6 linked regions of the Homo sapiens genome follow. The protein of the gene in region 1 purifies or fractionates together with the protein of each later gene. This does not show direct contact. Each region holds a gene or a part of one and is shown in the gene's direction. Other genes may lie near its edges. The genes, in order: TICAM1, DIS3L2, RNF144B, TANK, TRIM56 and TRIM38.

Evidence for each region.
Region 2: the proteins of TICAM1 (region 1) and DIS3L2 purify together in Homo sapiens (affinity purification with mass spectrometry; one large-scale study listed by BioGRID and IntAct). This does not show direct contact.
Region 3: the proteins of TICAM1 (region 1) and RNF144B purify together in Homo sapiens (affinity purification with western blotting, with the first as the bait; one study listed by BioGRID). This does not show direct contact.
Region 4: the proteins of TICAM1 (region 1) and TANK purify together in Homo sapiens (affinity purification with mass spectrometry; one large-scale study listed by BioGRID and IntAct). This does not show direct contact.
Region 5: the proteins of TICAM1 (region 1) and TRIM56 purify together in Homo sapiens (affinity purification with western blotting; one study listed by BioGRID and IntAct). This does not show direct contact.
Region 6: the proteins of TICAM1 (region 1) and TRIM38 purify together in Homo sapiens (affinity purification with western blotting, with the first as the bait; one study listed by BioGRID). This does not show direct contact.

What each region holds. Positions count from the first base shown.
Region 1 is NC_000019.10:4,814,705-4,819,764, reverse strand, and holds the end of TICAM1 (TIR domain-containing adapter molecule 1), read left to right. Parts: intron 1-1,248; 5' UTR 1,249-1,286; coding exon of another isoform or gene 1,287-1,290; 5' UTR 1,291-1,387; coding exon 1,388-3,526; 3' UTR 3,527-3,833; downstream 3,834-5,060.
Region 2 is NC_000002.12:232,082,950-232,088,368, forward strand, and holds part of DIS3L2 (DIS3-like exonuclease 2), read left to right. Parts: intron 1-4,537; coding exon 4,538-4,772; intron 4,773-5,419.
Region 3 is NC_000006.12:18,456,226-18,461,644, forward strand, and holds part of RNF144B (E3 ubiquitin-protein ligase RNF144B), read left to right. Parts: intron 1-929; coding exon 930-1,134; intron 1,135-3,381; coding exon 3,382-3,526; intron 3,527-5,419.
Region 4 is NC_000002.12:161,166,339-161,171,757, forward strand, and holds part of TANK (TRAF family member-associated NF-kappa-B activator), read left to right. Parts: intron 1-5,419.
Region 5 is NC_000007.14:101,086,693-101,092,111, forward strand, and holds part of TRIM56 (E3 ubiquitin-protein ligase TRIM56), read left to right. Parts: intron 1-313; 5' UTR 314-476; intron 477-619; 5' UTR 620-620; coding exon 621-2,888; 3' UTR 2,889-5,419.
Region 6 is NC_000006.12:25,968,551-25,973,969, forward strand, and holds part of TRIM38 (E3 ubiquitin-protein ligase TRIM38), read left to right. Parts: intron 1-774; coding exon 775-870; intron 871-3,318; coding exon 3,319-3,549; intron 3,550-4,503; coding exon 4,504-4,526; intron 4,527-4,622; coding exon 4,623-4,735; intron 4,736-5,419. UniProt on the Homo sapiens protein: E3 ubiquitin-protein and E3 SUMO-protein ligase that acts as a regulator of innate immunity. Acts as a negative regulator of type I interferon IFN-beta production by catalyzing 'Lys-48'-linked polyubiquitination of AZI2/NAP1, leading to its degradation.

The sequences.
Region 1 (5,060 bases):
TAGCTGGGACTACAGGCGCGGACCACCACACCCGGCTAATTTTTTTGTATTTTTAGTAGAGATGGGGTTTCACCATGTTGGCCAGGCTGGTCTTGAACTCCTGACCTCAGGTGAGCCGCCCTCCTTGGACTCCCAAAGTGCTGGGATTACAGGTGTGAGCCACCGTGCTCAGCCGAGGCTATTTAGCAAGCATGTATTGAGCACCTACTGGCTTTCAGTCATCAAGCTCAGAAGTATCTCTGTGTTAATCCAACTCAATTCCCCAAAACAAGTCTGTAAGTGTATGCCATTAGGCACACAGCCTCCACAGCCAGACTGCCTGGGTTGAAATCCGTCTTCTGCCATCCACTGATAGTGTGACTTTGGGCAAGTGACATCACCTCTGTGTGTCTTGCTTTCTTCATCTGTAAATGGGGAAAATAGTGTAATAGTGTTTACCTCTCAGGTAACACCAGGTAAGTCTCAGATGACAGCATTTTTTTTTTTTTTTTGAGACTGGGTCTCACTCTGTTGCCCAGGCTGGAGTGCAGTGGTACCATCATAGCTCACTGCAGCCTCAACCTCCTGGGCTTAAGCGATCTTCCCATCTCAGCCTCCGGAGTAGCTGGAACAACAGGCACGTGCCACCACGCCCAGCTACTTTTTTTGTTTTTTGAGCCGGAGTTTCACTCTGCTGCCCAGGCTGGAGTGCAGTGGCATGATCTTGGCTCACTGCAGCCACCACCTCCTGTGTTCAAGCGATTCTCCTGCCTCAGTTTCCCAAGTAGCTGGGATTACAAGAATGCACCACCACTCCTGGCTAATTCTTTGTATTTTTAGTAGAAACGGGGTTTCACCATGTTGGCCAGGCTGGTCTCGAACTCCTGACCTCAGGTGATCCCCCCGCCTCGGCCTCCACAACTGCTGGGATTACAGGCTTAAGCCCCCTCACCCAGCCCAGCTAATTTTTAAACTTTTAGTGGAGACGGAGTCTGGCTGTGTTGCCCAGGCTGGTCTCGAAGTCCTGGGCTTAAGTGATCCTCCTGCTTCAGCCTCCCAAAGTGCTGAGATCACAGGCCTGAGCCACCACACTGGCCTCATAGCATTTTGCAGAGGAAGAAATGGAAGTTGAAGGAGGCGACGTGTTGCCGAAGGTCACCTGGCTAGGTCTGGGTGGCAGGCGGGGAAAGCAGGCGGGGGTGTGTGGGCCGCCTTCCCGTGCTGACCTTTCTTGGGGGTAAGTGTGTTTGCTTCTCCTGTTTCCTACAGATCTGCTTGGGCAGCTCCTGCAGAACCTGGAACAGTGAATGGGTAGGGGACACTGGGCGTGCAGAAGGCGGGGGGCAGTGTGGAACATGCCTTCACCACCTCCAGCTTCTGCTGCCGGAGGCTGCACCCACCTGTGCCCATGGCCTGCACAGGCCCATCACTTCCTAGCGCCTTCGACATTCTAGGTGCAGCAGGCCAGGACAAGCTCTTGTATCTGAAGCACAAACTGAAGACCCCACGCCCAGGCTGCCAGGGGCAGGACCTCCTGCATGCCATGGTTCTCCTGAAGCTGGGCCAGGAAACTGAGGCCAGGATCTCTCTAGAGGCATTGAAGGCCGATGCGGTGGCCCGGCTGGTGGCCCGCCAGTGGGCTGGCGTGGACAGCACCGAGGACCCAGAGGAGCCCCCAGATGTGTCCTGGGCTGTGGCCCGCTTGTACCACCTGCTGGCTGAGGAGAAGCTGTGCCCCGCCTCGCTGCGGGACGTGGCCTACCAGGAAGCCGTCCGCACCCTCAGCTCCAGGGACGACCACCGGCTGGGGGAACTTCAGGATGAGGCCCGAAACCGGTGTGGGTGGGACATTGCTGGGGATCCAGGGAGCATCCGGACGCTCCAGTCCAATCTGGGCTGCCTCCCACCATCCTCGGCTTTGCCCTCTGGGACCAGGAGCCTCCCACGCCCCATTGACGGTGTTTCGGACTGGAGCCAAGGGTGCTCCCTGCGATCCACTGGCAGCCCTGCCTCCCTGGCCAGCAACTTGGAAATCAGCCAGTCCCCTACCATGCCCTTCCTCAGCCTGCACCGCAGCCCACATGGGCCCAGCAAGCTCTGTGACGACCCCCAGGCCAGCTTGGTGCCCGAGCCTGTCCCCGGTGGCTGCCAGGAGCCTGAGGAGATGAGCTGGCCGCCATCGGGGGAGATTGCCAGCCCACCAGAGCTGCCAAGCAGCCCACCTCCTGGGCTTCCCGAAGTGGCCCCAGATGCAACCTCCACTGGCCTCCCTGATACCCCCGCAGCTCCAGAAACCAGCACCAACTACCCAGTGGAGTGCACCGAGGGGTCTGCAGGCCCCCAGTCTCTCCCCTTGCCTATTCTGGAGCCGGTCAAAAACCCCTGCTCTGTCAAAGACCAGACGCCACTCCAACTTTCTGTAGAAGATACCACCTCTCCAAATACCAAGCCGTGCCCACCTACTCCCACCACCCCAGAAACATCCCCTCCTCCTCCTCCTCCTCCTCCTTCATCTACTCCTTGTTCAGCTCACCTGACCCCCTCCTCCCTGTTCCCTTCCTCCCTGGAATCATCATCGGAACAGAAATTCTATAACTTTGTGATCCTCCACGCCAGGGCAGACGAACACATCGCCCTGCGGGTTCGGGAGAAGCTGGAGGCCCTTGGCGTGCCCGACGGGGCCACCTTCTGCGAGGATTTCCAGGTGCCGGGGCGCGGGGAGCTGAGCTGCCTGCAGGACGCCATAGACCACTCAGCTTTCATCATCCTACTTCTCACCTCCAACTTCGACTGTCGCCTGAGCCTGCACCAGGTGAACCAAGCCATGATGAGCAACCTCACGCGACAGGGGTCGCCAGACTGTGTCATCCCCTTCCTGCCCCTGGAGAGCTCCCCGGCCCAGCTCAGCTCCGACACGGCCAGCCTGCTCTCCGGGCTGGTGCGGCTGGACGAACACTCCCAGATCTTCGCCAGGAAGGTGGCCAACACCTTCAAGCCCCACAGGCTTCAGGCCCGAAAGGCCATGTGGAGGAAGGAACAGGACACCCGAGCCCTGCGGGAACAGAGCCAACACCTGGACGGTGAGCGGATGCAGGCGGCGGCACTGAACGCAGCCTACTCAGCCTACCTCCAGAGCTACTTGTCCTACCAGGCACAGATGGAGCAGCTCCAGGTGGCTTTTGGGAGCCACATGTCATTTGGGACTGGGGCGCCCTATGGGGCTCGAATGCCCTTTGGGGGCCAGGTGCCCCTGGGAGCCCCGCCACCCTTTCCCACTTGGCCGGGGTGCCCGCAGCCGCCACCCCTGCACGCATGGCAGGCTGGCACCCCCCCACCGCCCTCCCCACAGCCAGCAGCCTTTCCACAGTCACTGCCCTTCCCGCAGTCCCCAGCCTTCCCTACGGCCTCACCCGCACCCCCTCAGAGCCCAGGGCTGCAACCCCTCATTATCCACCACGCACAGATGGTACAGCTGGGGCTGAACAACCACATGTGGAACCAGAGAGGGTCCCAGGCGCCCGAGGACAAGACGCAGGAGGCAGAATGACCGCGTGTCCTTGCCTGACCACCTGGGGAACACCCCTGGACCCAGGCATCGGCCAGGACCCCATAGAGCACCCCGGTCTGCCCTGTGCCCTGTGGACAGTGGAAGATGAGGTCATCTGCCACTTTCAGGACATTGTCCGGGAGCCCTTCATTTAGGACAAAACGGGCGCGATGATGCCCTGGCTTTCAGGGTGGTCAGAACTGGATACGGTGTTTACAATTCCAATCTCTCTATTTCTGGGTGAAGGGTCTTGGTGGTGGGGGTATTGCTACGGTCTTTTAATTATAATAAATATTTATTGAATGCTTCCGCAGCGCCATTGTCTTCTGGGACACCTTCTGCCTGGCTATTTGTTATAAAACACGTGGCTCCCGCTCCCGCAAAAGGGAACAGGAAGCGGGAAGTGCACGCCTCTTCTTGGAGGGCATAGACCGGCCTTTGCCCTCATCCCATTGGCCAGAATATAATCACATGGCCCTGCTCCTGCCGCAAGGAACCCTGGGAAATGTAGTCCTTTCTGAACGGCCGTGTGCCTCCCGAGTCGGGGTTCTAATACCAGGAAAGGTGGAGGGAAAAGATATTGTTGAGGGCGGGGAGGGTGCAGCCTGGGCAGCATGGTGAGACCGCGTCTCTTCAAAAATACAAAAGTTAGCTGGGCGTGGTGGTGCACGCCTGTAGTCTCAGGTACTCAGGAGGCTGAGGTGGGAGGATTGCTTGAGCCCAGGAGCCGAAGGCTGCAGTGAGCTATGAATGAATGAATGAATGAATGAATGAATGAGTGAGCGAGTGAGTGAATGAATGAATGAGTGAATGAGTGAGTGAATAAATGAACGAGTCAGTGAATGAATGAGTGAAAGAATGAACGAGTGAATGAATGAGTGAATGAATGAACGAGTGAGTGAATGAATGAGTGAATGAATGAACGAGTGAGTGAATGAATGAGTGAATGGATGAGTGAGTGAAAGGATGAGTGAATGAATGAATGAGTGAGTGAATGAATGGATGAGTGAATAAATGCATGAATTTGAATGAATGCCATTGGGGGACATTTAGCAGTTTTTGCTGCAGCCCTTCCTTTTTCTTTGGGGTCTGCCTTTGATGCCCCCACCAAGGTTGGACTCCGATGCCACTGTGTGACATTTGGCAAGTGCCTCCCCTGTCGGAGCCTCTGCTTTTTCATCTGAGAAATGGGTCTGTGGAGGCTGTTGTTTCAAGGCCTCAGCGGATCATATGCAGAACCACATATCAGGTACACCATACCTGGGTAGCAGGTGCAGCACTCATTAAGTATGGGGACCCACATGGAAGGGATTAATATTTTTCAGGGTGACAGACCTTCTAAGAATAAGAATGGAGCCAAGGTTTGTTGGACACTTAACATGTATTGATTCTGGAGTGTCTAAATACATAAACAAGACTGGGTGCTGTGGTGGCTCACATCTGTAATTAATCCCAGAACTTTGGGAGGTTGAAGTGGGAGGGTTGCTTGAGGCCAGGAATTCAAGACCAGCTTGGGCAACATAATGAAACCCCA
Region 2 (5,419 bases), on another chromosome or scaffold:
CACATTTCACATGGCGGCCTACAAAGGAAGAGGACTTGTTCAGGGAAACTCCCCTTTATAAAACCATCAGATCATGTGAGACTTATTCACTATCATGAGAACAGCACAGGAAAGACCCACCCCCCCATGATTCAATTACCTCCCACCTGGTCCCTCCCATGACACATTGGAATTGTGGGAGCTACAAGTCAAGATGAGATTTGGGTGGGGGCACAGCCAAACCATGTCGCCTTCTCTTCCCATTCTCTTCTTAAACTTCGTATGCATGAGCCAAAGCATAAATTATTAAGTAAGTAGGCAGGCAGAATCACGCTGATTACAATTTATACCCCCCCCCCCCCCCCCCACATATACATACATGCAGAGAAAGACCTTTCACTGTGAGAAAGTTCAACCTGCAGATTGTATAACAAAGTCAGAATTCTGGTACCTATGATATTTCTCCGTGGTTGGTGGGAACCAAATCCTTTGTGGAACCACTAGTGGCAGAAATAAATACAAAATAGAACCTAAAGGCCTGAGCTCTTTGCATAATGTCTTCTTCTTCTTTTTTTTTTTTTTTTGAGACAGAGTCTCACTCTGTTGCCCAGGCTGGAGTGCAGTGGCATGATCTCAGCTCACTGCAACCTCTGCCCCCTGGGCTCAAGTGATTCTCTTGCCTCAGCCTCCTGAGTAGCTGGGATTACACACGTGTGCCACCACACCCAGCTAATTTTTGTATTTTTAGTAGAGACAGGGTTTCACCATGTTGGCCAGGCTGGTCTTGAACTCCTGACTGCAAGTGATCTGCCTGCATTGTCCTTCCAAAGTGCTGGGATTACAGGTGTGAGCCACCACGCCAGGCCCATAATGTCTTTCCAGGAGACTACCTTTTACCTGCTAGACCAACTGCAGCATGACAGTTGCTTTCTTGCCCAGAACTTCTCTCTCTGAGATAAAGTATGTATGGGGATGATACAGGAAAAACCATTAAACCCGAGATTGTATATAGCCACCATGCTTTAGACATAGGGTATACACCTGTGCCTTCTGCCTGTGCTTAGGCTGCTCTGACAGTACCCAAGGTTGTATTAGTTCTTTGAGGATGGTCAGGGGCAGATGTTCCTAAATATTTCTGAATTTGCCAGGCATATTTAAGGAAATTGAATGAATTTGTTGATTTGAGTGATATCGGATTCTTTTTCTGCTGTAACTTGTCAGTAAATTTTCTTATTTTTGGATGATCTTCTTTGGGTCAGTTATGAAAACAAGGCTTATGTGGTAAAGCAGAAGTGCAGATGGGGGAGCTGGTTTTTTAATTGTACAGGCTGTGTATTCCTTATCCAGAATAAGGAATTCTTATCCAAAATAAGGTCCTTTTTGGGACCAGAAGTGTTTTTTTTGGGTTTGGGATGTTTTTCGGATTTTGGAATATTTACATTATACCAGTTGAGCATCCTAAATCCTAAAATCTGAAATCTGAAATGCTTCACTGAGCATATCTTTTGATTGTCATGTTGATGCTCAAAAAGTTTCAGATTTCAGACCATTTTGGATTTTCAGATTAGGGATGTTCAACCTGTGTATCAGTGCCCTAGCTGTAGCTTCACTCACATGAGCTCTTGCAGGAAGGGCCCTGCGGGAATCTTTTTGGAGATTGCTGGCCTGGCCAGTAGAACTTTTTTGTAGTATTAAAGAGAGGGAGATATGTCTGTTTCTAACTTCCCATTGACAGATGAATGGACAAATGAATGTATGAATCTGACATGAGTCAAAACAAGCAAAAAAGAAAATTTTATTAAATATACTCAGGGACTGGGAACCAAGTTTTTAAAAAAGTTTGCTCAAAAGTTTTGAGCACAGTTTTGCTCAAAAAAAAAAAAGCATTGTTTACAAGTTTTTCTATTACTATATTTTTATGGAGTCAATTTTTACAAACTGAGGATATATTCTTACCTTTATTCTGATCGTTCTTTGTAATATTTTACTTTGGTTTTCTGAGTTGATATTATAATATTAATTGTCTAGGAATGGTTATGTTAATTGAACCTACTGTATTAAAATGCTTTAGGAAAGATTTAATAACTTTTTCTCTCTTGTATAAGGTGAAGATCTTTCACTAAGCATGATCTTTGTGTTACTTTTAATTAGAACATTAGACCTATCAAATATAAACATGGTGAAACTGCTAGAGCTCTCTTACTTCATTCAGGTCTCTGCTCAAATGCTGCTTCCTCTAAGCAGTATTTCCTAATCACCCTACTGATAAACTAGGCACACCCTCTCCATTATTCTCTCATTTACTTAACGAGCTTTCTCATTCTTTCAATATATTTAATTGCGCTTCTCACTAGTCGACTTTTGATTGTGTTCACTGTTCTGCCCTTGGCACCTAGAACAGTTTCTGGCACCATGAAAGGGACTCCATAATGACTTGTTGAATGAGTAAATTGTTCATCATTTGTCACCCCACTAGGATGTAGGACTCATGACGGTGCCTGGCACGAGGTGGGCATTCCAACATTTGTTTGAAAGAATAAAAGGAATGTTTACAAGTAGTGATCAAATTCATTTTTTATATTTATGTATATACAGGTGATCATTTAAGTTTTAATTATATGTTTAAATTGAACATAGGTATTTATCATATAGAAATAGATTATTAAAAAGGATGCAGTATTCAAGTAACATCCAAGAACCTACAAAATCTGCTGCTTTTTTGCTAATGTGGATGGGCAGATTTACATGTAGGGTCACAATTTTTTTCAGTGACTCAATAACACCTGGTGTATTTTAATATAGTGTCCATAGACATCAGAGTGCTGTATGTGACAAACTCATAAAATGGATTAGTATCTGGATTGGTTTTTTATTTTATTTTATTTTATTTTTTTTAGAGCTAGAATATCCCTTTGTCGCCCAGGCTGGAGTGCTGTGGCGTGATCATAGCTTACTGTAACTCCTAACTCCTAGGCTCAAGTAATCTTCCCACTTCAGCCTCCCAAGTAGCTAGGACTACAGGCGCCCTGCCCCCCAACTATGCCTGGTTGATTTTTAAATTTTTTTTAGAGGCAAGGTCTCAATATGTTGCCCAGGCCGGTCTTAAACTCCTCCTGCCTTGGCCTCCCATAGCTCTGAGATTACAGGTGTGAGTCACTGTGCCTGGCCTGGATTTTTTTCCTCTACTTGCTTCATTAGTATTGTAGTGTAAATGTCCATCAGTGTGTGTGTGCTTTATACGTATATACGTATATATACACACGTATAGACGTGTATACGTATATATACACACGTATAGACGTGTATACGTATATATACACACGTATAGACGTGTATACGTGTATATACATATACGTATATATGTATACATATATACATATGTATATGTATATGCATATGCATATGTATATATACATATATGTATATATATGTGTATATGTATATGTATATGTATATGTATATGTATATGTGTATATATACATATACATGCAGAGAAAGACCTTTCACTGTGAGAAAGTTCAGCCTGCAGATTGTATAACAAAGTCAGAATTCTGGTACCTGTGATATTTTCTCCATGGTTGATGGGAACCAAATCCTTTGTGGAACCATTAGTGGCAGAAATAAATACATAATAGAAACTAAAGGCCTGAGCCTTTAAATATATATATATATATGTGTGTGTGTGTATATATATATATATACACATATATATATATGTATATATATATATATGTGTGTGTGTGTGTGTGTATATATATATTTTTTGAGACAGAGTCTCGCTCTGTCACCCAGACTGGATGGAGTGCAGTGGTGCCATCTCGGCTCGCTGCAAGCTCCGCCTCCTGGGTTCACACCATTCTCCTGCCTCAGCCTCCCAAGTAGCTGGGACTACAGGCACCCGCCACAACTCCTGGCTAATTTTTTTATATTTTTAGTAGAGACAGAGTTTCACCGTGTTAGCCAGGATGGTCTCAATCTCCTGACCTCATGATCCGCCCGCCTCAGCCTCCCAAAAGTGCTGGGATTACAGGCTTGAGCCACCGCGCCTGGCCAATAAAGCTTTATATTTTTATAAGAACATTTTATAAACTCTTGTTCACACTTAATTTTGTTTTTTTTCCACTTCATCTTGTATTCTTGTGGTTTCCTTGGTTTCCTTTAGGAACACTGTGGCATACTTTGTTGAGTTCTTTTATCATTCCCTAACTTACTAATTGTTCCTATATGGTGAGGGTTTATGAAGCAGCATGGTACTACTTCTGGTATTCAGGGCCTTTGGGGAGAGGGGATGAAAATGTAGATCAGAAATATGAGAAGTGGATAAGGCATTAATTTGGGGCATCCTGAAGAGCTGAGTGTCAGCCTGGCTTTGCTGGATTGATTATGTGCATTAGGTGGTCTGTGCTTCTGGAAAATAAAGATCCTTTTTTGAACTACATGATTAGTGTCCAATACCGTTAGCTTCTGAATATGCAGTTTCTTCCTTAGAAAAGAAAAATCTGCTCTTTTTTTTTTTTCCTCTCTCAGTGATTTAGCAGAATTTTTCTGTTTTCTTTAGGTAGTTAAACCAGAGAGCAATGACAAAGAAACAGAAGCTGCGTATGAATCAGATATCCCCGAGGAGCTCTGTGGACACCATCTCCCGCAACAGTCCCTGAAAAGCTATAATGACAGTCCTGATGTCATTGTAGAGGCTCAGTTTGATGGCAGCGACTCAGAAGATGGACATGGCATCACACAAAATGTGCTGGTTGATGGTGTTAAGAAACTCTCAGTTTGTGTTTCTGAGAAAGGTGAGTACTAGACTATTGTCTTACTTTTTTTTTAAGTACACTGATTAAGTATTGGAATTCCCTCTCTGCTGCAGAGTAAATAACACAATGCCATTGATATAGTCCTAATTTTTGACCTGTGGCAGCTTTCAGAAAAGGGGGATCTTTGACAGGTTTAGCTGCTGGTTATGAAAGAGGGGATGAAAGTGCTTCCAGCGGTTTGTGTGGGCAGTAGTTGCAGTTGCCACATTCCTAATAGGCTTGAGCTGTGTTGCTGGTTAACGTTGACATCTCTTGCGATAGGCGCAATCCTGTGGATGATGTGAACACAATTAAACTGGTATGTAAAATTCATATGAAAAATCACTTTATTTTACTTTCAGTTTTACTTTAAATATCTTTTAGAAGTATTTTTGTCGGCTGGGCACAGTGGCTCACGCCTGTAATCCCAGCACTTTGGGAGGCCGAGGCGGGCGGATCACGAGGTCAGGAGATCGAGACCATCCTGGCTAACATGGTGAAACCCTGTCTCTACTAAAAATGCAAAAAAATTAGCCAGGCGTGGGCCGGGCGCGGTGGCTCACGCCTGTAATCCCAGCACTTTGGGAGGCCGAGGTGGGCGGATCACGAGGTCAGGAGATCAAGACCATCCTGGCTAACACGTTGAA
Region 3 (5,419 bases), on another chromosome or scaffold:
TGTGGGTCTTTCACACATTGTCCCTAAGTTGCACATTGGTAGGGAGCAGAATATCCAAACTGACAGGTAATCCAACTTCTTGGCTAAGCCACACCAGATACTGTTTAATCCCTAAACTATTTGATTATTTTCTTCCTTGTTCTTTAATTTCCTGGGAATGTGGAAGAAACCTCACTATCTGTTTCTCAGTGCCTGAAAGGACAAAGTCTTTTTGGAAAAATATCTTATTAAAAATTTGCTTTTTATGTCCAATTCTCTTCCAAGATAGTGCCCAAATAATTGTAGAAGGGATTTGAGATTTTTGCCTATTTTACGTGCTCAAAGGTGGGAAATATTCTAAAAGTCTTGTGAATTTTGTTTACAGAGAACACTTTTTATCTGTTCATAAAGGCAATGGTAAGCTATTCTGTTAGTACCTACTTTGAGAAATGTGGCAGGGCTTAGCGACCTTGTAAATGATAGGTTTGGATCCATTATGAAGACTAATAGTAGAAATCCTCACCCTTGTTGTATTATACTTCCATAAATGTCAGTTTAAAAAAGAGGGTAAATGGGGCAGGTGTGGTGGCTCATGCCTGTAAAATCCCAGCACTTTGGGAGGCCAAGGTAGGCAGATCACCTGGGGTCAGGAATTCGAGATCAGCCTGGCCAACAAGGTGAAACCTGTCTCTACTAAAAATACAAAAATGAGCCAGGCGTGATGGTGCGCACCTGTAGTCCCAGCTACTCGGGAGGCTGAGGCAGAAGAATCGGTTGAACCCAGGAGGGGAGGTTGCAGTGAGCTGAAATCATGCCACTGTACTCCAGCCTGGGCGACAGAGTGAGACTCTGGTTCCAAATAAATTAAATAAATAAGAGGGCAAATGAAGGTGAGAAAGACTCAAACATGAATCGGGCAGACCATCACATTTTCTTTCTTTACACTTTAGAAGTTCATCTGGACCCCTACCGAACATGGTGTCCTGTTGCAGACTGTCAGACAGTGTGCCCTGTTGCCTCGAGTGACCCAGGACAGCCTGTGCTGGTGGAATGCCCTTCTTGCCACCTGAAATTCTGCTCGTGTTGCAAGGATGCTTGGCATGCAGAGGTCTCCTGTAGAGACAGTCAGCCTATTGTCCTGCCAACAGAGCACCGGTAAGAAAGGAAACTTTGTCTTTGGGATTATTCACTAGTTTTCTTAGAAATTCAACATACCTTACGTGTAGAAGGAGTTACGTTGTGATGGCGTTTAGAGATTGGTTATTTTCCTGCAGAACTTCCCTGAGAAGTGTCTCAGAATTGGTAAGTTGCCAACAAAAAAGCATTTCTAGTTGTTTGCCCCAGAGGAATCTTCCAGATATTGCTGGAATTAAAGTTTGTATGAGTTTTGCTTTCTCTTTAGGTAGTGAGGCACCGTGGTCTACTGGTTCTCAGTAGGAAATCATGACTTGTTCCCGCTCTTTGCTCAGATACAGTATCTGCCTGTATTGGTATATATCATTCTTGTTGCTTGCAAAATGAGAAAAGAAATTTTCTTACCTGACTAAATTGCCAGCTCATGATGTGTGACAGTCATATTAGAAAGAACACAACAATAGAAACAACGGTCCTAAATTCTTTCAGCACGTAGAAAGGAGGGTTCTCTCATGATATTTTATGCTCTGTAAAGGTTGAGATTTTATCGTGATAGGAAGCAATTAAATCTGTACCTTTTTAGTACAGCGGGTTTTTTTTTGTTTTGTTTTGTTTTTGAGACAGAGTCTTGCTCTGTTGCCTAGACTGGAGTTCAGTGGCACGATCTCGGCTCACTGCAACCACTGCCTCCTGGGTTCAAGCGATTCTCCTGCCTCAGCCTCCCGATTAGCTGGGATTGCAGGCACTTGCCACCACGCCTGGCTAATTTTTCTATTTTTAGTAGAGATGGGGTTTCACCATATTGGCCAGGCTGGTCTTGAAATCCTGACCTCAAGTGATCCACCCGCCTAGGCCTCCCAAAGTGCTAGGATTACAGACATAAGCCACCACACTTGGGCGATACAGAGGGTTTTTATGGCAACAGCAGTGCCCAGAGTGAGAGACCTCTGTGTTTCATTCCTGCTTTGCTTGAGGCTATCGTTGTTCTGCATCAGCAAGAACAAAATACGAGTGTTGTAATCCCATTGGCTTAATCACACAGTGCACCCAGAATGTGTAGAACCAGGCTTCATGAATAGTAATGCTACTTGGCTACGATGCTGTGCTTGAATCTCAGAACAAACAAATGGAGAGGAATAGAGAAGCTAATACACATGGCAGGCATGTGCCCTCTTAGCCGGATTCAAACCACTGTTGCCTACATTTTCGTGGCCATAGCAGGAAGCTCCGTGGGTATCACAGGGCAACGTAAAGAACTCAGAGGATAGGAGGATTTGCATTCTGACATTGTCACTCGGTATCTGTGTGTCTCATAGAAGCCACTCAGCCTCTGTGAGTCTGTTTCCCTATCTGAAAATAAGGGAATTAAGATACAAGTTGAGCATCCCTTATCCAAAATACTTGGGATAAGAAGTGTTTCAGATCTCAGTGTTTTCAGATTTTGAAATATTTTCATGATATGTTTATTGGTTAAGCATCCTTACTCTGAATACCAGGAGTCAGAAAGGCTTCAATGAGCATTTCCTTTGTCATGTTGGCACTCAAAAAGTTTCAGATTTTGGAGCATTTTGGATTTCAAATTGTGGACTAGGGATGCTCAACCTGTAATAACTGTCTTATGACAATATGAGGTTATTGTTCATACGAAGTCTGATAATAGATTTGACAACACTCTGTGAGTTGGATATCTCTGTGTGCTGGGTGGTGGTTTTGATGGGCAGTAGCTAAAGTGTTACATGGTGCTATCGCTCACTCCAATTCCTGTTGCTTATTTTCTGTGCCCCTTGGGGCTGTGAGCCTGTATTGGTCTATTCGTCTGTTTGGAGAAGGTCTTTTGAAAGTATTTGACATTATTTTAAAGTGTTTATATTTGAGAACCCCTTCTCCATTTGTCTAATGAACAGACCATTAGATAGATTATATACGCCCAGTTTGGACCCTGACCTAGTTTCTCTGCTGTGTAGCCAACTCCTTGCCATTCTTATTTAGGCAATGCATGCTTAGGGAATGAAATATTAATTTGACAAAATAGTGAGTTAAATCAGTGGTGGAAACTGTAATTATATAATTCACTGAAAGCCAAAATAAATAAAGATTCCTTCTTGTATGAGTTATCTGTACATCTAATAATGTTTTTGCCCACACCCTTTCTTTTGGAAGTGAATTAAGCATGGATAACTGTGAGTTCATTATCTAACCATCAGGAGCCCTGGGAATTCAACTGATGACCATCAGCTGAATGCCATTTCTCATCCATTTTGTTTCTAGAGCCCTCTTTGGGACAGATGCAGAAGCCCCCATTAAGCAGTGCCCAGTTTGCCGGGTTTATATCGAACGCAATGAAGGCTGCGCTCAGATGATGTGCAAAAACTGCAAGCATACATTTTGCTGGTACTGCCTCCAGAACTTGGATGTAAGTTCCACCTAGGTTTGTTGTATGGTGTTTCCTATACTGTATCTGCACCACAGCTGATATCCTACAGATTTTCCTTTAAAATATTGGGGCAATTTTTGTCCTGCAAAAGGAATTTATTTTTCTTAATGAGACTTACTAAGCCTGATACTTTAGATATCTAAAAACATCTTTTTGATGACCTTACATATGCCACCCTGGTGTTAAAGGCAAGCTTTTGTTTTCAGGGCATTTCTTGCTATTTGCACATTGTCTCTATTATGTAAAGGACTATTAGTGTCTTCATTTTATATTGCTGTTGTAACGAATTAGCACATACTTAGTGGCTTAAAATACCACAAACTTATTATCCCACAGTTCTTCACTTTGGAAGTCTGACATAGGTCTTGCTGGATTAAAATCAAGGTGTCAGCCGGGCTGCATTTCTTTCTGGAGGCTTTAGGGGAGAATCTGTTTTCTTGCCTTGGAGGCTGTCCGCTTTCCTTGGCTTGTGGCCTCTTCCTCCATCTTCAAAGCCAGCAACATCAGATCTCTCACTCCCTTCTTTCTTAGTCGTTGCTCCCTCTGACCACAGCTGGGAAAGGTTCTCTGCCTGAAGGACCAATGTGATGAGATTGGGCCCATCAGGATAATGTAGGATAATCTCCTTTATCTCAAGGTTCTTAATTTAATCACACTTGCAGAATCCCTCTTGTCATATAGGGTAACACATTCACAGATTCTGGGAATTAGGCCATGATATCTTTGGGAGGTAGTTATTCTGCCTACCACTATTAGATTTTTTCTTCGTTTTGAATTTAAAGAAAAATGGTTCAAATCAATGGTGTCTCCTAACTCTCTTCTCTCCCTCATGCTCTCTTGCATGCTCTCACTCGCTCTCTCTCTCTCTTGTTCATGAGCATGCAGCAGTATCGCTACTGTTTTGACAGTGTTCCCTTCCCAGATCAAGGGGCTTGGCTTAATTTTTTCTCACCATTCATGAATCAAGTCTCAAATTGAGGTGCAGTTTTATTCAGCCCTGTGCCAAGGCTAATGGTAACTTCAGAGTTAAAAATGCGATGCAAAGAGTTGGTGAGAAGGTCTTACTTCACTTCTGGTCTTTTAAAGTTTGGGGTAACATAAGTTGTTTATAGATAACACTCTGTTTTGGCAATTTGGACCTCTAAAATATGTCCATATCAGCGTAAGCCCTCAGTTACCATTGAGTTGCTATTCTTTTCTCAGCTCTTTGTTTTGATTGCTTGATTTGCTTTAATTCAACAAGCGATTTGTGTAGTGCTTTAGTTCAGACATGCTTAGTGAGTGAGTGTGCAGTTAGCATGTAATGTCATCAAGCAGGCCACCACCTGCTTGATGTTTAATGGAAAACTAGATATGTTGTTTAAGATGACATGTATGAATAAGAATAATAACCTCCATCTTAGTGATTTAAGAAGAGGTATAAACTGAGGAGAAGAAAATGGACATTTTAGACTCTAGAAGTTCAGCAGCTCAGTTTGGAAGAAATATCTTCTATTTAAAAATTGATTTATCATAGGCCCTTGAGTTACAATTATGTTTGATATTTAAGACCTAGCATGCATCTAAGTGAGTGATATTCTGGATGAGGATTTTACTGATTGTACATTACACATGCATTACAAATGAAAAACAATTTTTTTTTGTTTTCCTTCAGGTTTCACCAGAATATTAATTGGGTTCATATCCACAAGGAGGCTGAGCCCATGAGGTTCTCTTTAGGAGGCCAGAGTGTAAGGGAACAAATATGTGCACCAGATCTCCATCCTTTGGTTGAAATGTGTTTGGGGGATGGTGTTGCAAAGGACATGCTGTTCTGTCTCTTGTGCTGCTCTGGTTCTGGAGATGAAATGGTGCAGATGTTAAATGGCTGAA
Region 4 (5,419 bases), on another chromosome or scaffold:
AAATGCAAGAGGTCAGTTGGGGAATTAGCTGCTTGTGTTATATAACTCCTTAAAAGTGGAAAATGATCACAAGTAAATGTGAGTAGTGACAGTTCTCTTCCATTTCCTTTCTTCAGGTAAGGAAAACACACTTAATATTTTTGAGTGTCTTTAAAGATCTTCCTAACCATCCAAAAGAGAAGATGTCTTATTTATGTGTATATGTCGTGTTGTTGACTGATTTTTTTGCTTTTTACTCCTGATGTGTTTTGTGGGTGAGAAGGCAAGCATGTAACTAAGATACAGAAAAGACCAAGATGTAGTGGGGCACAGTGGCTTGACGCCTATAATCTCAACTACTCAGAAGGCTGAGGTGGAAGGATTGCTTGAGGCGAGGAGTCCAGGCTGCAGTGGGCTATGATTGCACCGCCACACTTGCTGCACTCTACCCTTGGGGGACAGAGTGAAGCTCTGTCTCAAAAAAAAAACAAAAAACAAAACAAAAACACAGAATTTGTCTTTCATTCACTGATTCACCTCTTTATGTACTACAGTGGCAACTTTTCTGAAATAGAATATGAACTCCTCTTATTCATAGCCCAAGGGGTTGGGAAAGGCTGGTGGCTTTCTTTTCTAGGGCAAAGTGGAAGGAGTAGCAGTTATTCAAGGTGGTTTCCTTTCCCCATCCTGAAACTGCTTTAGATTTGAGTTGGTCTCTCACCACAAGTGTGAACTCTGGCAGAACATTTACCCAGAAACAGAATAGGCTCAGCAGTTGGGGAAACCCAGCAGAGGGGCCTTGCCTGCCTCCCAAATTACTCACACTTGTCTCAACCACCTACAAAAAAGTAGACCTTACTAAAGAATGACTAATCATCCTGGGGTCAAGATGGCGAAAATCCTACCTTTAAGCCTTTGATTCTCTTCAAACGTGGAATTCCAATGTATATATACATAACTGATCAAAGCTCAGATGTTCTGGTTGAACAGGCAGTTAGAGGTGGAACATGATTTGGCTCATACACTGTCAGCCTCAGTGCAGCTCCAGAGGCACCACTACTTACCCTTGATTACTACTTTCTTTATCCAGGATTGGTTGGCTGTCATTTGGCAGGATAATGGCTGCCAAAGACAACAGACTTAAGATATTGTATCTATTGTCAACCTAAAGAAATGGAGGCAAAATTAATATGGGGAATTTATTTGGGTAAAGGTTGACGACAGCTGCCTTGGACACACTTCCAGGTTGCCTTGGGGGGTTGCTCCATTCGGCCTTTGTTGCAACCAGGTTTTTGTTTGTTTGTTTGTTTGTTTTTGTTTTTTGAGATGGAGTCTCTCTCTGTCACCCAGGCTGGAGTGCAGTGGCGCGATCTTGTCTCACTGCAAGCTCCGCTTCCTGGGTTCACTCCATTCTTCTGCCTCAGCCTCCCAAGTAGCTGGGACTACAAATGCCCGCCACCACGACCGGCTAATTTTTTTGTATTTTTTAGTAGAGACAGGGTTTCACCGTGTTAGCCAGGATGGTCTCGATCTCCTGACCTTGTGATACGCTCGCCTCGGCCTCCCAGAGTGCTGGGATTACAAGTGTGAGCCACCGTGCCTGGCCGCAACCAGGTTTTTAAAGGCAAAAGAGAGCAAAGAATGGGCTGATACTAAGTTATTTGATAGGAATTCTCACTGGTTTACAGAAATAACATTGATTAGTGATTATACATTGTTGAACTATAGGGCATGAGTTTTGGTATCTAACGTATGGCATTTTATGGCTACTTGGCATCACATAGTAGGTAGCTTCAAGAGGGTCATTTAGTTCACGGGAGAGTGAGGTGTGACTGCTGTCACACACTTACATTTCAGTGCCTCTCTGGGCCTGATAATTAAAATGGGTTTGCACTCCTCACATTAAAAGTTTTTATTTCTCACTATGAAATAAGGAGGGAAGTTCATTTTAAAAGGAGTGGCAGAATAAGGAGAATTGGAGAACCAGTACAGAAGATTCAAAACCCAGATAGTAGAAGTCCCAGAAAGGAATACAAAAGGAAAGAAATTGCCCCAAAAAATTTTCAAGAAAATTTCCAAGAACTGAAGGAGGAATTTCCAGATTGAAAGGGCCCACCAAACACCTATTGCTATGATATAGTCCATGGCCAAGTATGGTCCTGAAATTTCAGAATCCTAGGGACAAAAAGAAAAAAAATCCTAATTGTTTTCAAAGAGAAAAAAATCGGTTTAAGGCCAGGCACAGTGGCTTATGCCTATAATCCAAGCACTTTGGGAGGCCGAGGCAGGCAGATCACCTGAGGCTGGGAGTTCAAGACCATCCTGGCTAACATGGTGAAACCCCGTCTCTACTAAAAATACAAAAATTAGCTGGGTGTGGTGGCGTGCGCCTGTAATCCCAGCTACTGGGGAGGCTGAGGCACAAGAATCGCTTGAATCCCGGAGGTGGAGGTTGCAATGAGCTGAGATCACACCATTGCACTCCAGCCTCGAGCAACAGAGTGAGAATTGTACAAGATCAGGAATCAAAATGGATCTGATCCTCAAAAAAAATAAACAGAAGCTAGAAGATAGCATAGCAAAGCTTTCAGAATTCTGAGGAAAAATTACTTCCAACCTAGAACTCTTAATCTAGCCAAAGGATCCGTTAAGTCAGAGGGTAAAGATATTTTTAGTTATGCAAAGCCTCAAAAAATTTACTTCCCAAACACTTTCTTAGGAAGCTGCTACAAGATTTGCGTCACCACGTGGGGATATAAAACAAGATTCAGGAGACTGAAAATGAGGGATTCAATTAAAGAAAGAGATGGACAAAGGGTATCCCCAAATTCAAGGTAAAGAAGGTCCCAAGATGAAGGCTTTCCATCAGGCATAGAGAGCAACTAGTCTAGATTGGAGCAAGCCAGAAAGCTTACAGAGTGATTCTTCTAAAGAGATAGAATACCTGACGTGTCTGAATATATTGAGGAGTTGTATTAGTGATAATAGGAAACAAAGCAAACAAGAATTTTCAGGGAAAAAAGTTTTCAGAAAAGGAAAAGTATCCATGGTATTGTTCAACAGTGAATAGCATTACATAGTAATAAGAAAGTAAAAGCTGAATGCTAATCTAATGAAAAATTAGATATAACTGTATTGGGGAAATGGGGGAGAATAGGAGGTAGGGGATATTTAAAGAGAGCTGAATCCTAATTTTCCATAATGAAGAGACAAAAACTGAAAAATCAGTAGTGGCAGTATTACATGTTATTTAGGGATACAGAGATAAATACAAAAAAGAATTAGTCAAAATTTGTTGCGAAGGTGAAGCAGGAAATAGGAAGGGGAAAGCAGAGGACTACTGTTTTTCTTATTTTGTAGAACTACACAACTCATTAAGATATAGGTACGTATAGCTCTGATTAAAATAAAAAATTAGAGGGGAGAGAGCTAGAGATTGTGCTTTAGCAACAGAGACCTAGGTTTATCTGGTTCTTCCATTTTCTAATTCTGTGCCTTATGCAACTTATTTACCCTTTTGAAGCTCAGTTTTGAAGTTCAGTTTCCTCCTCTGTAAAGGGAAGACAATATATGCTTCTGCAGAGGGAAGATTAAAAATGAGGTAGTTTATGTAAAGCACCTGCAAATAGATCTTTGTTCCGACCCTAACCCCAGTGCTTCCCATGATCAAATAGGGAACCACCTTCTTCATTGTTGGGATGATTGCCATCCAAACAGAAGACTGAGATTGTCCTTCTTATCCATGACTCTTTGTGCCTCTTTGAATTAAAGGCATGTCTTTGAGATCTATCTTGTCTCTCAACTATCTGTAGATAGTTTGAGAATTGAAATAGAATTAAGATGATTAGAGTATTGATAGGAGGAACATCAAGTTAAAAGTGTCATTGCTACTTAGTGGGAGATGGGCTATGGTCAGTCAAATTTCTCAACAAGAACTTCAACAAATGCCATTAATAGAGAAAACATTTGTTTTCTCTATTAATTAAGTTGATGAGTTGTGGAAGTTTTATGGAAGCAAGATGAACAAAGTGCTGTTGCTCTGGGCCATCTGCCAAAGTATCAAAATACCTTTATTTATTTATTTGAGAAAGTCTTCTACCTTAGCAACTGCTATTTTTGTTCCGAAATTCTATATACTTCTTGTAGAATAATTAAAAAGCAGATCACTATGGGAAAAAAGGCAACTTTATGAAAGCCTGTTTCCCTGCGTTGGTGCATATTTGTATAGCATTTTATAGTGCTTTCCAAGCTATGACTCGACCCCCTATGGCAGTAATTTTAAATCCATCTTACATCTCCCCACTGTACAAAATTAGATCCAGGAGTCTTGGACAGGGTTTGGTAATGTATTTTTTAAAACCACCGTGGATGATTCTAATTTACTGACAGGTTGCGAACCAATGTCCTACAGCCTGACTCTACGCCAAGATTCTGAATTGGGAGAAATGGGGGAACAGAGGTCCATAGAAAGGTTAAATGACTTGTTTACTCTCACCCATCACCAAGCCTGTCTAGACTGGACATGTATTGTATACTTCAACTCTGATTTTATCTTCAGTTGACTAGGCTTTTTAATTTAGAGTATCTGATCTAAATTGCCTTAGCAGAGAAATTAGTACATTTTACACAAGATGTGGTATAGTTAAAAATATCATTTGCAATCTTTATTTTATAGTGTCTTTTTATTTTTTTCCAGAGGCAAAAGGAAGTGAAACAGCAAATCTGAGTTTCTAATCAACTATTACTTCCCCACAGTAGGGTGGCACAGCAAGTGTTAAGATTTACTAGGTCTGAATATTCATATTTGAGGTAAACTGGTGTGGCCTTGAAAAGGGTAGAAAGTTGGGTAATTTTGGCACAGATGCAAGTTTGGAATGTTGATCTGTTGGGCTGCCCAGGGATTTTTGTAGCCTTCTCTTTAGGAATATTCAACAGTCTGAAGGAGAGAACTTGTTGCATGGTACTGGATTAAAAATATTAGATCTGGTTTTAAGCTAATATGTTAAAGTCATACCCTAAACATCTTCAGAATGGCTGAAAATGGAGATCCGGAAATCTCTGAAACCTTATTTATTTTTTCATTAGAGTTCTCACAATTACTTCTAATAAAACAAGTTGTGACTTGCAAATCCAGCAGCCTATGGATGTCCTCAGGGAAATTAAAAACAAGGGATATGAAGAGCTGTAGAGTCCTGTGCCAGTGGTTAAGAGCACAGAGTAAAGCTTTATAATTATGTAGGTTTTTGCCTGTTCCTATTTATCATTGGTAATGTTCTCAAGGCTAAATGGCTGCTCAGCTATTTTAAATTGTGATTTAAAGAGAAATTAGGCCCTTTTGTGAAAAGGTCCTCTATCTCTTGAAATTTCAACTCTTTTTTCATAGAAGAGCTCTCTTCCTCCATAGTGGTTTTTTCTGATACAGTAAATGACTCAGGGATAC
Region 5 (5,419 bases), on another chromosome or scaffold:
TGACAGAGGGTGACCCTATTGCTAAAAACTAAAATAAAATAAAAAGAAGGCAGGTGTATGGGGCTTGGAGGATTAAAGCCCCCTAAGCTACTGCAAGATCCTACCCCAACTGGCAGGACCTAGGCATCTCTGCCCACTGGGATCCCCGTCTGTGTCCTTACTGCCTGCTCCTCGCACCCTGGCACCCTATACAGCAGGACCCCAGTACCTGTGCACACAGGAGGGCTTCCACCATGTTTGCCACAAGGCCTGTGGACTGGGGACACTGAGGATTCGATTATTAGCTAAGGCCAGGGACTCCTGGTCTTGTCAGTTCTCACAGGTCTGACCCAACAAGTAGCACTGACATTTTTACGTTTGCTGGATGTACACACGGAAGTGGAGGAGGAGGAGGAGAAGGAGGAGGGCAGCTCCTTAGCTCAAGAGCAAGTGGCCCAAGGCCTCAGAAGACTAGAAGGAAGTTCCTGGCCATTCAGGTGAGACCTCAGGTTCCTTCCCGGCCATTTGGGTCAGCCCCTAGCCCTGGGGATCCGTGGGGCTTGAGGACGGGCGGTAGAAGCTAGAGGGTGAGCTGGTGAAGGTGCCTTCTCAACTCTGATCCTGACGCCTCTGCCTGCAGCATGGTTTCCCACGGGTCCTCGCCCTCCCTCCTGGAGGCCCTGAGCAGCGACTTCCTGGCCTGTAAAATCTGCCTGGAGCAGCTGCGGGCACCCAAGACACTGCCCTGCCTGCATACCTACTGCCAAGACTGCCTGGCACAGCTGGCGGATGGCGGCCGCGTCCGCTGCCCCGAGTGCCGCGAGACAGTGCCTGTGCCGCCCGAGGGTGTGGCCTCCTTCAAGACCAACTTCTTCGTCAATGGGCTGCTGGACCTGGTGAAGGCCCGGGCCTGTGGAGACCTGCGTGCCGGGAAGCCAGCCTGTGCCCTGTGTCCCCTGGTGGGTGGCACCAGCACCGGGGGGCCGGCCACGGCCCGGTGCCTGGACTGTGCCGATGACTTGTGCCAGGCCTGTGCCGACGGGCACCGCTGCACCCGCCAGACCCACACCCACCGCGTGGTGGACCTGGTGGGCTACAGGGCCGGGTGGTATGATGAGGAGGCCCGGGAGCGCCAAGCGGCCCAGTGTCCCCAGCACCCCGGGGAGGCACTGCGCTTCCTGTGCCAGCCCTGCTCACAGTTGCTGTGCAGAGAGTGCCGCCTAGACCCCCACCTGGACCACCCCTGCCTGCCTCTGGCTGAAGCTGTGCGTGCCCGGAGGCCGGGCCTGGAGGGACTGCTGGCCGGTGTGGACAATAACCTGGTGGAGCTGGAGGCAGCGCGGAGGGTGGAGAAGGAGGCGCTAGCCCGGCTGCGGGAGCAGGCGGCCCGGGTGGGGACTCAGGTGGAGGAGGCGGCTGAGGGCGTCCTCCGGGCCCTGCTGGCCCAGAAGCAGGAGGTGCTGGGGCAGCTACGAGCCCACGTGGAGGCTGCCGAAGAAGCTGCTCGGGAGAGGCTGGCGGAGCTTGAGGGCCGGGAGCAGGTGGCCAGGGCCGCAGCCGCCTTCGCCCGCCGGGTACTCAGCCTGGGGCGAGAGGCCGAGATCCTCTCCCTGGAAGGGGCGATCGCACAGCGGCTCAGGCAGCTGCAGGGCTGCCCCTGGGCACCAGGCCCGGCCCCCTGCCTGCTCCCACAGCTGGAGCTCCATCCTGGGCTCCTGGACAAGAACTGCCACCTTCTTCGGCTGTCCTTTGAGGAGCAGCAGCCCCAGAAGGATGGTGGGAAAGACGGAGCTGGTACCCAGGGAGGTGAGGAGAGCCAGAGCCGGAGGGAGGATGAGCCGAAGACTGAGAGACAGGGTGGAGTCCAGCCCCAGGCTGGAGATGGAGCCCAGACCCCAAAAGAGGAAAAAGCCCAGACAACCCGAGAAGAGGGAGCCCAGACCTTGGAGGAGGACAGGGCCCAGACACCCCACGAGGATGGAGGACCCCAGCCCCACAGGGGTGGCAGACCCAACAAGAAGAAAAAGTTCAAAGGCAGGCTCAAGTCAATTTCCCGGGAGCCCAGCCCAGCCCTGGGGCCGAATCTGGACGGCTCTGGCCTCCTCCCCAGACCCATCTTTTACTGCAGTTTCCCCACGCGGATGCCTGGAGACAAGCGGTCCCCCCGGATCACCGGGCTCTGTCCCTTCGGTCCCCGGGAGATCCTGGTGGCGGATGAGCAGAACCGGGCACTGAAACGCTTCTCCCTCAACGGCGACTACAAGGGCACCGTGCCGGTCCCTGAGGGCTGCTCCCCTTGCAGCGTGGCCGCCCTGCAGAGCGCGGTGGCCTTCTCCGCTAGCGCACGGCTCTATCTCATCAACCCCAACGGCGAAGTGCAGTGGCGCAGGGCCCTGAGCCTCTCCCAGGCCAGCCACGCGGTGGCGGCACTGCCTAGCGGGGACCGCGTGGCTGTCAGCGTGGCGGGCCACGTGGAGGTGTACAATATGGAAGGCAGCCTGGCCACCCGGTTCATTCCTGGAGGCAAGGCCAGCCGGGGCCTGCGGGCGCTGGTGTTTCTGACCACCAGCCCCCAGGGGCATTTCGTGGGGTCGGACTGGCAGCAGAATAGTGTGGTAATCTGTGATGGGCTGGGCCAGGTGGTTGGGGAGTACAAGGGGCCAGGCCTGCATGGCTGCCAGCCGGGCTCCGTGTCTGTGGATAAGAAGGGCTACATCTTTCTGACCCTTCGAGAAGTCAACAAGGTGGTGATCCTGGACCCGAAGGGGTCCCTCCTTGGAGACTTCCTGACAGCCTACCACGGCCTGGAAAAGCCCCGGGTTACCACCATGGTGGATGGCAGGTACCTGGTCGTGTCCCTCAGTAACGGGACCATCCACATCTTTCGGGTCCGTTCTCCGGACAGTTAAAGGGGCTAGGACTAGGGTGAGAGGGAGTGGGGAGGGAGAGGGCAGGAAGGAGGCAGAGCTGTCCGTGGGAGGTGGAGGCCGAGGACATTTTCCTGAAGGGCAGGGGTTGGCAACTTTTCAACATGGAGTGCCAAACTGCTAACCCGTCTTCTAGTGTGTGAGAATAGGGACCAAGGTGGTGGCGTGACCTTAACTCTCAGAAGCAGAGGAGGCAGGTGGGTGGAGGGGGATGCTGGGAGTTCACCTGCCTCTTGCTTTTTGTGGGTGGCTGCTGCCACCACCGCCGCTGCTATATAGTTTAGGTTTCTGAGGTTTGTGAGCCTGTCCTGCTTTGCATTCTTCAAAACCATTCCTGATAGAGTAGCCGAGGGAGAGTCTTGGGGCCAAGAAGGGCCCAGGGTGGGTCAGGCGTGTGCACTGTGGAACAGAGCTGAGACCCCGGCCCCCCTTGGACTGGCACAGGGTCCTACAGAGTCAGAGGAGGCCTGAGATTTCGAATGGGCAGTGAATGGCCTCTTCTGCCAGCCACAGGCAGGATGCTCCTTGATCACGGCATCCCCCGGCGGTAGTACAGGGTGAGCTTGCAGGAGGGTCTGCAAGTGCAGACAGCAGCTGGGGCCAAAGAGGTGTTAGGTTCAAAGGCTGCGAAGAGAATAGGCTACTGGAAAACCAAACCCAACAGAATTCACGTCCAAAAATCCACATTCTCCATCGCTTCTCAGCCTTTTGGCTAAGATTAAGTATTAAAAAAAAACCAGGCTCTGCCAGGCGCAGTGGCTCATGCCTATAATCCCGGCACTTTGGGAGTCTGTGGCAGGAGGATTGCTTGAGGCCAGGAGTTTGAGACCAGCCTGGGCAACATAGCGAGACCCCATCTCTACAAAAGATTAAAAATTAGCTGCGTGTAGTAGCATATGCCTTTCAACGTAGCTACTCAGGAGGCTGAGGTGGGAGGATCCCTTGAGCCGAGGAGTTTGAGTCTGCAGTGAGCTATGATCGCACCACTGCATTCCAGACCCCATCTCGAAAAAAAAAAAAAAAAAAAAAAACAGAAACAACAGAAAAAGCAGGTTATCCATCACTTCTCAGCTAAGATCAAGTGTTAAAATAAATAAATAAATAAATAAATAAATAAATAAATAAATACCAAGTTATGAGTGTCAGAGCAGGGGAGCCCTCCACGCAGCCACGGAGCCAGTCTGAGGGAAGAGGTACATAGGATAGAAAAATCTCTAGGCTCCAACGCTTCTGCTTCGGTGTCTTTCCATTTCCCAGGGTCTATGTGTTGCCTTCTCTTCATTTTCCAGCAAAATTCCTTTTGAGATATGTTGGCCTTCACTCGGCTGAACTAGGGGGTGAAGGAAGGTTGTCCTCTGTGGGCCACTATTGCTGGGGAAACAGCTAAACCCTGCAGGCCAAGTGGAACTTGGAGGTGCCAAGAAAACCTAGAAGGTGCAATGGGGCTGCGACGGATAGAGGTGTCAAACCAGAAGGGAGGAACCCGTCGGAGGTGGGCTGTGACCACCGGACCTTTTCATAAGTGGTGGCAGTGGTAGAATTGAGGGGGCAAGTAGGCTTGGAGAATGTTTTTAGCCAGGGGCTGTTGAGAGATGGCAGAAGGGGGTCTTAATGTGGGGACTGTGGACAGTGGGGCATTCGTGGGAACCAGAGGGATTTTGGACAAGTCCAGATGGAATGTGCAGGGCATAGGTAGAGGGAAAAGAAAATCCCTTTCTGGGAAAACCATTTCTTGTTTATTGAAACAATGCAGGACATCATCAAAGTCCGGGTGGACACATTCCATTATCTACAAATTACAAAGGTAGGCACAGCAAAGAATAATGAAGATTATAAGAAAACCAAGCGCCAGGCACGGTGACTCAAGCCTGTAATCCCAGCACTCTGGGAGGCTGGGGTGGGTGGATCACTCAAGGTCAGGAGTTCGAGACCAGCCTGGCCAACATGGAGAAACCCCATCTCTACTAAAAATACAAAAATTAGCTAGGCGTGGGAGCGGGCGTCTGTAATCCCAGCTACTTGGGAGGCTGAGGCAGGAGAATCATTTGAACCCAGGAGGTGGAAGTTGCAGTGAGCTCAGATCGCACCATTGCACTCCAGCCTGGGTAACAAGAATGAAACTCCATCTCAAAAAAAAAGAAAAAGAAAAGAAAGAAAACCAAGGTCCCTCTCCCTCTCCCTCTCCCCACGGTCTCCCTCTGCCTCTCTTTCCATGGTCACGGTCTCCCTCTGATGCCGAGCCGAAGCTGGACTGTACTGCTGCCATCTCGGCTCACTGCAACCTCCCTGCCTGATTCTCCTGCCTCAGCCTGCCGAGTGCCTGCGATTGCAGGCGCGCGCCGCCACGCCTGACTGGTTTTCGTATTTTTTTGGTGGAGACGGGGTTTCACTGTGTTGGCCGGGCTGGTCTCCAGCTCCTAACCGCGAGTGATCCGCCAGCCTCGGCCTCCGGAGGTGCCGGGATTGCAGACGGAGTCTCGTTCACTCGGTGCTCAATGTTGCCCAGGCTGGAG
Region 6 (5,419 bases), on another chromosome or scaffold:
CTAAAACAGTTACATAGAACCTTTTCCTGAGAACACTCGAGAATGAATGAGTATACTTGTTGGGTTTACAGAGGACAGGAGACAATTCTTTCAGCATTGACTACAATTAGCAATTTGGGTCAGCTTCAAATCACTTTCAATAGAAATATGAGAAACTGTTTTGAAGAATAAGCTAAAAGCTTGACATGAATACTAAATCATTTTAAATTGGATTCATGATACCATTGTTCAAAAGATACCAGAATTCCCCTCTTCCATGAACTGTTTCTAATAACCAGCTGGCATCCTGATTTTTCCTGACTCATAAGACACAAAATTTCATGTGTGCCAAACACTGGTATTGGTTTTGCTTGGTTCAGCATGTTGTTTTACAAAATCTTTTAGATGATGATTACCTTGTTCTATATCCAACTTTTTCCTGGCAGGACTCTAGTGGTGGACATAGCTCAGGCTCTGGGTCAGCAGATGAGATTGCAATTGTTGCTCCACCACCTGGCAGTCATAGCCCTTTGGGCAAGTTATTTTACCCCTTTCTTAGTCTCATTTTCTACAGCACAGAAATGAAGTTTAAAATCCTACCAACTATTCAGGGTTGCCAAGGGGATCAGTATGTTCCTGCACATATAGCCTTTAGCATGCTCTCTAGCAAAAAACAATGAGGACTCTATAAATATTCACTATTATTCAAATATATCTTAGAAGATTGGGATTCCCCCTAGGTCCCTAATGAAGAGTCAAATTGAATAGGCTTCACTTATCAAATTTTTCCTTCAGGAAAAGCTCCAGAAAGCTGTGACAAAACTGAAGCAACTTGAAGACAGATGTACGGAGCAGAAGCTGTCCACAGCAATGCGAATAACTAAATGGAAAGTAAGAATCTGACTTCATTGATCTCAAGCTATTTTCCATTCTAGAGCTTAGGCATAGGGGATGATTGAGGAAAAGCACAATGAGGATTTATTCTCACTAAACCAGATTGAAAAAATGAAACCCAAGGAAGAAACCATTATTTGTACTTATGCCCCTGGTTCCAGGTTTACATCCATGAGTATTTAGCACCAATCTTTCCATCTTTAAACTGTAGTTGGCTGGGATTCCTGATACTTCAGTCAGAAGAAGCAGAATTAGTATGACTATTTACCTAGAAAAAGCATCGAGTGGGTCTCAAACTTTAAATACGTCAAAATAAACCTGGTTTGCAGGCCTCAACTCATTACCCTGGCACTTTTACCACAGTGGAGCATCTGGCTCTCAACTTTACAGGTACAGAAACCAAGCTTTGTGAACACTTAGAAAACAGGATCACTCCAGATTGAAATTCATACTACTCTAGCTCATGAAGCTGATGAAAGAAATATACTTTATTTATTTATTTATTTTTAAATTATTACTATTTTTTGAGATGGAGTCTTGCTGGAGTGTAGTGGTGCGATCTCAGCTCACTGCAATGTCCACCTCCCGGGTTCAAGCAATTCCCCTGCCTCAGCCTCTTGAGTAGCTGGGATTACAGGCATGTGCTACCATGCCTGGCTAATTTTTTGTATTTTAGTAGAGACGGGGTTTCACCATGTTGGCCAGGATGGTCTTGATCTCCTGACCTCGTGATTCACCCACCTCAGCCTCCCAAAGTGCTGGGATTACAGGCGTGAGCCACTGCACCCGGCCTATACTTGATTTATAAGTACATCACAAGTAATGCAACAACCTACACACTTGCAACTACAAACTTTCAGATTATTTCCGTGGCTGACTAACCTCCACATTATCAGAGCCACATTCTTTTATGGAAATATTTAGGTTTGTGCAAAAGTAATTGCGGTCTTTGCCATTAAAGTAAAGGCAAAAACCACAATTACTTTTGCACCAATCTTTATATTTATATAATTCACTAGCTTGCAGTAAAATCCCACAAGCTGATTACCAATTTTCTCTCTTTCAGGAGTCCTCTCTAACCTCTACCCTGATCTTTGTTTGTGGATGTTGCTCTTGAGCTCCTGAGTACACTCTTACTTCCCCCATTTCTAGGATCTTGGGCAATGGGGAAGACCTTGATTGTAACTAACATATATGAAAACCCGTCTATACAAGAGTTAAAGCTGCACCTGTCTCCTACACAAAAATTCCACCTCATCCTAAGTCAAAGACCCTTCTTCTATATCATAGTCATCAAAACACTGTATGAATTTATTTTTATTTTTTAATTTTTATTTTTTTAAGATAAGTAGAGAGTTTATTTGGGCCAAGTTTGAAGACTGCAATCCAAGAACATAGATTCAAATTGCCCTGAATACACACTCCCACTGCATTAATTTAGACAGCACTAATGGAAATTGCAACTTTACATCTCCTCAGATGAGAGTTTCACTTGATTTCTGTCAGTCTTACACATAGGAATGCTTAAGATGACCCTAGGGTAGTAGAACAGTATTTCTCAGTTAACCATAATAAATGCCTGTCACACTCAAAGCTCCCCCTGCCAAGAATTATGGACCCTCTTACCAGCCTGGTTGTCTTAAAATCCAGTCTGGGTGATGTTCATTATAAGCTTTTACTTCAAGAAAATCGCTCCAACTCAGAAATCTAACTTCTTAAATCATAAGTAAAAACCTCTTTTTATCCTTGTAACTGATAAAGTGTTTGAACTTGGCCCTAGTTTCACAATTAAATTATCTAGCACTCCTAACCCAGCTTTCTCCTGTGTCTTGGCTGAAGAACAAGAAAATTAATTGGGTGACTATAAGGAATCTGAGGCAACCTCTTCCACATCTGAGTGCCTGCCTCCCACACATGACTCTGCAGCAGGAAACTGGGGACATTCTTCCAGCTTCAGTGACTCATGAGAAAATAATGTCCCAGTGGCTGATTGTGTGTGTGTGTGTGTTTGTGTGAAAATATATATAACACTTAAGCATTTAACCACTTTTAAGTATATAGTTCAGTAGAATTAAGTGCTTTTACATTGTTACATTGTTGTGCAACCATCACCATTCCCATCTCCAAACTGCAACTCAGTTTCATCTTTCATCTTCTAAACTGAAACTCACTACCCATTAAACAATAACTGTCCATTTTCTGGTCTTGCCAACACCTTGTAACCACTATTTTACTTTCTGTCTCTATGAACTTAACTACTCCAGATGCCTTGTATAAGCAAAGTCTTACAATATTTGCCCTTTTGTTTCTGGCTTATTTTGCTTGAATGTCTTCAAGGCTTGTCATGTAGTAGCGTGTGTCAGACTTTCATTCTTGTTTATCCATTCATCCATAGATGGACATTTGGTTTACTTCCACCTTTTGACCATACTTTCTTGACTCCAGGAGAAGGTACAGATTCAGAGACAAAAAATCCGGTCTGACTTTAAGAATCTCCAGTGTTTCCTACATGAGGAAGAGAAGTCTTATCTCTGGAGGCTGGAGAAAGAAGAACAACAGACTCTGAGTAGACTGAGGGACTATGAGGCTGGTCTGGGGCTGAAGAGCAATGAACTCAAGAGCCACATCCTGGAACTGGAGGAAAAATGTCAGGGCTCAGCCCAGAAATTGCTGCAGGTGAGGCTGTGTACTTGGAGTAGGGAAAAAAGGTATGTTATAGTGCTATTAAAGGAGAATGGTAAGGAAGCATGGGAAGATAAAGTAATGTTTCTTTTAGATGTACATCAGTGCCATCAGGCTGGCCTTCACTAATTTATAGGGTACCTTTATGTCAATTAGAAAAATAAACTTCTGAGGGAACACAGCTTGGCCAAATGAAACCACGGGATAACATTTACCACTGTTTGCCTCCTTGGCCCATGTGCAGAGAACCCTGGTTGTTGACTCTCTCCTGAAATACTCCACTAGGTGACTGATGGGTGATGAAGTGGGGCAGCCAAAATGAGTGATAACCTTTTCCCTGATTTGCTTGTAGAACCCTTGCTCCAGAGCTGTTATGGTACAATCTACAGCTTTATCTGTAGGAAGATAAACATCTGGAGCCATTAATTCTGGTTCTAACTAACAGGATTGGTGACTATACTGTAAGGCTGAGTGTATAGCATGATTGCTTTACCACTGTGTGATACCTGCTACCACCATCTTAGTGGCAGTGGCCCAGTCTCAGGGCTGTGCACAGATTCACCACTAAGGACCTTTATGATAAGTGTTCTCTAATCTGGGCTCACTGTGAAGGAAATCCGATCACCAAAAGCTAGTCCTTACAGAGGGAGCATGGACAAAGCTCCTGGCCCTCAGACTTCAGCAAGGATGAGAATAGATGCAAATGTTGATAAACATCCTGCCATGCTGAATCTCCCAGAAGCTGGTAGGAATTATTCCATCTGGGTATCCATCAATACCTAAGACTGGTGGGAATTACTTTGTTTGAGTATCCATCAATATCTAAGACTAAGACTAGGGTAACTCTCTTTACTTCTTCGGGTAAAGCAAAGAAGAATAGCCCTGCATGACAAGCCCCATGAAATACCGATGTTCCCATGCTCACCTTTTCTTTTTGTTTCTTTATAGAATGTGAATGACACTTTGAGCAGGTAAGTCCTGTTTGAATGCAGGAGGGGAGGGGTGTGCGTATATAGAAATGAATGGAATGCACCTCTGAAGAAATCTCTCGCCTCTGCTTATTCTAGGAGTTGGGCTGTGAAGCTGGAAACATCAGAGGCTGTCTCCTTGGAACTTCATACTATGTGCAATGTTTCCAAGCTTTACTTCGATGTGAAGAAAATGTTAAGGAGTCATCAAGGTATGTTCACTAAAGAATTCCTGAATACTGTGGATAGAAGGGGCCTTATGCAGTAACCAAGTTTACCACCTGTCCCTTGGCAGGCTCACAGCCAGAGAGGTTGTTTAGTTAATTTCAGTAGAGCTTTCATACTTTCTCTAGTTAGTATGATTCACTGCTCAGTGAATGTGATGAGCATTGCATTCTGGTTATCTGTGCAAACCTTTCAAATTCTTATTCTTTCACTTATTAGCCATGTTACTCCAAGTGACTTGGTTTCCCCCTCTGAAAAATGAAAATATTAACAGCTCCTACTTCATTGAGTTATCATCAAAATTAAATGCATCAACATGTACAAAGTGCTTAGCCCTGTGACTGACACATGATCATAATAGCACATCATGGTATTAGATCTGATCATAGTGTTTATTATCAATAGCTCAGCCAACTCTTAGAGCAATGCAAGAAAAGTAGGTGAGTATGATAACCTATCATTCACATATTTTAGGAACTTGACTTAGATAACACAGATGACAAATGTTACAACCAATTTACAGATTCCAAAATGTTAGAACCATTTACTGAGTTTCCTGCTCCCTTGATTTTTTAAATCAGTGCTGACTATACTTTCACAAATTTGTATCCGTAAGTACAAAATCAAAAAAACCCCTGAAAATGGAAAGTTTTATCATGATTCATTTGGCT